Regions from separate parts of the Homo sapiens genome. Here region 1 is linked to region 2. Evidence: fine-mapped expression QTL. A gene starts in region 2. The other region holds a variant in brackets. All regions are shown on one strand. Distances are from middle to middle. Region 1 overlaps PLEKHB2 (pleckstrin homology domain containing B2). Region 2 holds the start of PLEKHB2 (pleckstrin homology domain containing B2).

Region 1 (2,908 bases), 30 kb after region 2:
ATAAAAAGTCTTGGAACTGGGTGGACTGATCAACACCCTCTTTGTTCCTTTTTGGAAATGTTTTAGCTATTCTGGTTCCATTAGCTTTCCATATACATTAGAATAAATTTGTTTATATCTACAATGAAATCTTGCAAGGCTTTTGCAGGAATTGCCTTAAACCTGTGTCATATTTATTTGGAGAGTAATGACATCTTTATTGAATGTTGAATCTTCCAGTTATAAACATGGACTGCATGTGTATTTAGATCCTCTTTGATTTTTTTCATCAGCATTTTGAGGTTTTCAGTATAAAAATCCCATACATGTTTTGTTAGATTTATAAGTGTTTCAGTTTTTTTAGTGATTGCATATGGTATTACATTTTTAGTTTTAGTTTCCTTTGTTTACTGCCAGTATAGAGAAATAGAATTGATTTTTGTAGGTTGATCTTGCAGCTTGTAAACTTTCTCTTTTTTTTTTGAGACAGAGTGTCTCTCTTATTGCCCAGGCTGGAGTGCAGTGGCGCGATCTTGGCTGACTGCACCCTCCGCCTCCTGGGTTCAAGCGATTCTCCTGCCTCAGCCTCCTGAGTAGCCGGGATTACAGGCACGTGCCACCACACTAATTTTTTGTATTTTTAGTAGAGATGGGGTTTCACCATGATGGCCAGGCTAGTTTCAAACTCCTGACCACAGGTGATCCACCTGCCTTGGCCTTCAAAGTGCTGGGATTACAGGCATGAGCCATGGTGCCTGGTCGGCGCCTGTAAACTTTCTAAGCTCACTTACTCTATTTCCTTTTTCTGTAGATTCTTTGGGATATACTACATAGGCAATCATGTCATCTACAAATAGGAATCTGTTTTCTTTGTAACCTTTATGCCTTCTGTTTCCTTACCTTGCCTTGTTGCCTTGGTTAGACCTTCAAATATTATGTAGAATAGCAGTAGTGAGAGAAGACATCCTTGCCTTGTTCCTGATTTTAGGGGGGATGTATTCAGTGTTTTTTTTTGAGATGGAGTCTCGCTCTGTCACCCAGGCTCTGGAGTGCAGTGGCGAGATCTCGGCTCACTGCAAGCTCCGCCTCCCGGGTTCACACCATTCTGCCTCAGCCTCTCTAGTAGTTGTGACTACAGGCACCTGCCACCATGCCCGGCTAATTTTTTTATTTTTTTTATTTTTAGTAGAGACGGGGTTTCACCATGTTAGCCAGGATGGTCTCGATCTCCTGACCTTGTGATCCACCCACCTTGGCCTACCAGAGTGCTAGGAATACAGGCGTGAGCCACCGCGCCCGGCCAGTGTATTCAGTTTTAAGTATGCATTCATTTATTATGAATGTACTGTTTAATTCAGTATTTAATTAGTACTGAATTCAGTATTTAGTTTTACATATGCATATATTTAGTATTTAATGCATTCATTAAGTATGCTGTTAGCTGGAGGTTTTTTATATTTATTCTTTATCAGGTTTAGAAATTCCCTTTTTCTAGTTTCCAGGAGTGTTTATCATGACTGGTTGTCAGTTGCTTGCCTGCCTGTCTTCCTGCCTCCTCCCTCCCTCCCTCCCTCCCTCTCTCCTTTCCCCCGCCCGTCCCCTCTCCTCCTCTCCTCTCCTCTCTCCCCTGACCCCCTGAGAGATGAGGTCTCACTCTCTTGCCCAGGATGGAGTGCAGTGGTACTATCATTAGCTCACTTCAGCCTGGAATTCCTGGGCTGAGGCAATCCTCTTGCCTCAGCCTCCTGAGCCACCATGGCTGCAAAAAAATTTTTTTTT[T/G]TTGTTGTAGAGACAGGGTCTTGTTCTGTTGCCCAGGGTGGTCTTGAACTCCTGGCCTCAAACAATCCTCCTGCCTGGGCCTCCCAAAGTGATTTTGTTAAATACTTTTTCTACAGTAATTAATATGATCATGAGATTTTTCTTTTCTTTTTAGCCTGCTAATATGGTGGATTATAGTGTTTGGTTTTCACATACTGAACCAGCCTTGCATTCCCTGGAATAAAGCCTACTTGGTCATGGTGTATGATTCTTTTTATTTATTGCTGAATTCAGTTTGCTAATATTTGTTAAGGATTTTTGCGTCTATATTTATGAGGGATATTGGTCTATAGTTTTCTTTTTTTGTACTTTGTTTTGTTTTATCAAGGCAATACTGACCTTATAGAATAAATTGGAAAGTGTTTTCTGCTCTTTTCTTTTCTGGGAGAAATTGTGTAGAATTGGCATTAATTCTTCTTTAAAATTTGGTAGAAATCTCCAGTGAAACTGTCAGGGCTTGGAGATTTCTTTTTTGGGAGATTTTAAGTGACAACATCTTTTTTCTTTTTTTCTTTCTTTTCTTTCTTTTTTTTTTTTTTTGAGACGGAGTCTCACTCTTGTCGCCCAGGCTGGAGTGCAGTGGCGTGATCTCGGCTCACTGCAAGCTCCGCCTCCCGTGTTCACGCCATTCTTCTGCCTCAGCCTCCTGAGTAGCGGGGACTACAGGCGCCTGCCACCACACCCGGCTAATTTTTTTGTATTTTTAGTAGAGACGGGGTTTCACTGTGTTAGCCAGGACGGTCTCGATCTCCTGACCTCGTGATCTGCCCGCCTCGGCCTCCCAGAGTGCTGGGATTACAGGCGTGAGCCACTGTGCCCGGCCTCTTTTTACTTTTTTTGGCCTAACCAACACACATCTATTTGTCACAGTTCTGGAGGCTGAAAGCCCAAGGTCAAGGTGTTGGGCAGCATTGGTTCTCCTGAGGCCCCTCCTGCGCTTGCACATGGCCTCCTCCTCCCTGTATCCTCACATGACCTTTCTTCTGGGTCCACCGCAGATACAGCTTTCTTATTAGTGACTGGTCTACTCAAATTCTCTAGTTTGTATGGAGTAGGTTTTGACAGTTTGTAGTTTTTGTGGAATTGTTCCTTTTCTTATAGGTTGTCTGAC
Region 2 (2,908 bases):
CGCAAAGCTCTGGGATTACTGGCATGAACCATCTCACCTGGCTAACATTTATTTTCCCTCTATTGTCTTCAGAAAACCCCCAACTTTTCATCTGGAATAATTTTAGACTACAAAAAAGTTATAAAGCTAGTATACCCTTCACACAATTTCTCCTAATGTTAACATCTTACATAACCATTATACATTTCTTATAACTAAAAACTACTATTACCTAAACTTAAATTTTATTTTAAGTTTATAGCCTAGCTACATCACCATGTTGCATATGACAGTGTCTCAGTTTTTTTCTTGCTTTTGATTACCTTGATAGTTTGAGGAGTACTGGTGAGGTGTTTTGAGGAATATCCCACAAACGAGATTTGTCTGATGTTTATCTTTCAGTTAGACTGAGGTCACGGTTTTTTTTTTAATCACATGTCAAGGGCAAGTGCAGTGACTAATCACTTTGATTTTCACGTGGAGTGGCTCTACAGCCCTCTTTCCACACTGTACTCTTGGAAAGGTCGTCCCCAGGCATAGGCCACACTCAGGGTGGGTGTGGACGGATTACCACACCCCTCTGGATGAGGTATTATTAGAATTCCTCTGCAAGGAAGATTATCCCTTCTCCCTCATTTATTTAATCACGTATTTATAGCAGCACGGGCTCTGGGCTGTTTTATACTTTAGGTTATAACTTAATGCAATGTACTTTATATTGCTGCTCAAATTGTCCCAGGCGCGGCCCCCGGAAGCTCTCTGGGTAGATCCCTGCGCCCTTGGACGCCCGGTCCTTCAGTTTTTTGAGCACCTCAAGCTTCTGGCCTACAAAACGCTCCCGGCTCAGCTGGAGCTTTCTGCGCCCGGGTCCTAGAGTCGCCCATTTCTCTAAGGCGCCTTGGCCCTATTTTTAGAGAGCGGTATTTAGAAACCAAGATTAGGGTGCTAACAATTTTTTTTTAAATTTTTATATTTTTAAGACAGGATCTCACTTTGTAACACTTCCTTTTAGTGGAAGCGCCGACCTCCTGGGAGACCCACGCCCCCTGCCGCCTTCCGTCCCGTTTCTCAGAAAACCACCCAGACACCCCGCCCCACCGGCCGGGGCCCGCCGCGCATGCGCGCCGAGGCGTGACGTCAGAACGGCGGCCAGGACGCCGGACGTGCGGCAGTTGCAGGCGAGCAGGCGAGGAATCGCCGTGGCGTCTTGGTGTTCTCCACGCTGGTTCGCAGGTGAGTGTCCCTGTTTAGTCCGGACGACCCTAGCTCCTTTCCCCTCTGGCCCGCGCCTCTCCAGATTCTCCTCTAGAGCTGCCCAGCCTCGCGCCCCTCTGAGGGGACCCCGCACCGCGCCACCTCCGCGGTGTCCCCACTCCCTAATTTTCCCTGAGGCTCCTGGCCACGGGTCCGCCCACCTCCCTGGACCACCCTGACCTTCCCCAGGTCCGCCCTCTCAGTCTCCCCTAGAGCAGCCCATTCGAGAGCCCTCCCAGTGGGCCCCCCCGGCCTCTCAGACCCCTTCCCATCGCTTCCCCGGCGTCCGCCTCCGGTCCTTTCCCCGAGCCCCTCCTCTCCGGCCCCGCGGACCCTCCTCCTTTCCCGACTGCAGCCTCCGCCTTGCATCCTTTCTGGCCGCTCGGGAGTGTCCCACATGTCTGACTGCCGGGACCTGCTGCGGCCCGCCGCCTGGGGTCTCCCGGCGTCCGATCTCTACCCCTGCTGCTCCCTCTGCTCCAGGGAACTTGCCTTCTCAGTTCTCCTGCCCAGAGGTCTCCCCTCCTTAAGTCCCGGGGGGCGTTGAGGCTTTACCCTCGCGGTGCGGTCCGCCCCCGCTGCATTTCACCTGCTCTTGGCCTTGCAATGTCTTTAGTCATAAGTGCTTGGTGTACCTTATCTTACATATCTCTCTTCATGTTTGATTCTGTTACTCAACTAGATTGAAAACTCCGGAGGTCAGGGATTTGCATAGGGATCCCCGCCCCGCCACCCCGCTTAAATCTCAAATGTAGACCGGTTCAGGGTGGGTGGAGGAAAGGAATGAGGTGGAGTGGTCACTGTAAAAAATTAAAGGAACATGGTTAATTCAAAATAATACTGACTCATGGTCTCAGCCTTTAAATTTTTAGTGCTTAGGAAAGGGTGGAACCACCACCGAGGGAGGAGGGCTGACAGCTGAGGGGAGGAATATTCCAAGGTCTTCTGTGGCCTTTGGTATGAACCAGTACCAATTCAGGAAGTGACTTGTCCGAAGTCACATGAGGAATTAGGACCCGAGCTGGCACTGGTAACTGCCTGTTTAGTGTGGCCCTCAGTATTTGTTGACTAAACTAATGACCAAAACATGTATGCACAGACACAGCTGTGCGTCTGTGCCCATGCAGTGGGTGTGTCTGCCTAAGGACCTGTGGGGGTGTGGGAATACTGCTGTGACGGTTCAATTGTGGTGCTCAGGAGTGTTCCCTAGGTTCAGAAAGTTCCTAACCCTGGGCTGGTTGGCTGGATATTGATAGGACTGGAGCTTGTCTGGGCTTCCTTTGTGCCTGGTGTTTACTCTCTGTGGTGGTGATCTCTTTACTCGACTCTTCCCTATTCGTACTGATCTCCCTGAGGACAGGAATCAAACTGTGTTGCAGGGTTTCCCTAATAAACAGCATAGTGTTTGGCACTTTGTAGGTGGTCAGTAAATGCTTATTGAAGAAGGCTGCAGAAAAGAACTCAGAACCTGACAGCGGTTCTTTGCTAGCATTATATTTTAAAGGCGGTGGTACATTCTGTAAGTAAATTTCCTGCTATTCTCAAGGACTGAGTTGATTAAATGTGTACAGCAGTGGTATAGAGAGGACAGATACTCTTGTGGTGTTACTCCTTGGGAAGGTGGAGGTTTCTCTCAGCTCTTTCTGAAAGCTTTGCTTATGCTTTTCAGCTTGCA

What was found. PIP is the estimated chance that this variant, and not a neighbour inherited with it, causes the effect.
Region 1: its variant is fine-mapped to the expression of PLEKHB2 in whole blood (TOPMed, PIP above 0.99).

The regions. Positions count from the first base shown.
Region 1 is chr2:131,134,627-131,137,534 of GRCh38, forward strand. All of the region lies in intron 6 of PLEKHB2 (pleckstrin homology domain containing B2), which reads left to right. Among named protein-coding and RNA genes, the nearest start is that of PLEKHB2, 31 kb to the left of the region's middle. The variant T/G (reference allele first, on the strand shown) is at 1,759.
Region 2 is chr2:131,104,187-131,107,094 of GRCh38, forward strand. PLEKHB2 (pleckstrin homology domain containing B2) reads left to right here and starts at 1,150. Exons shown (of 8, transcript NM_001100623.2): 1 at 1,150-1,212. RefSeq lists an enhancer at 874-1,003.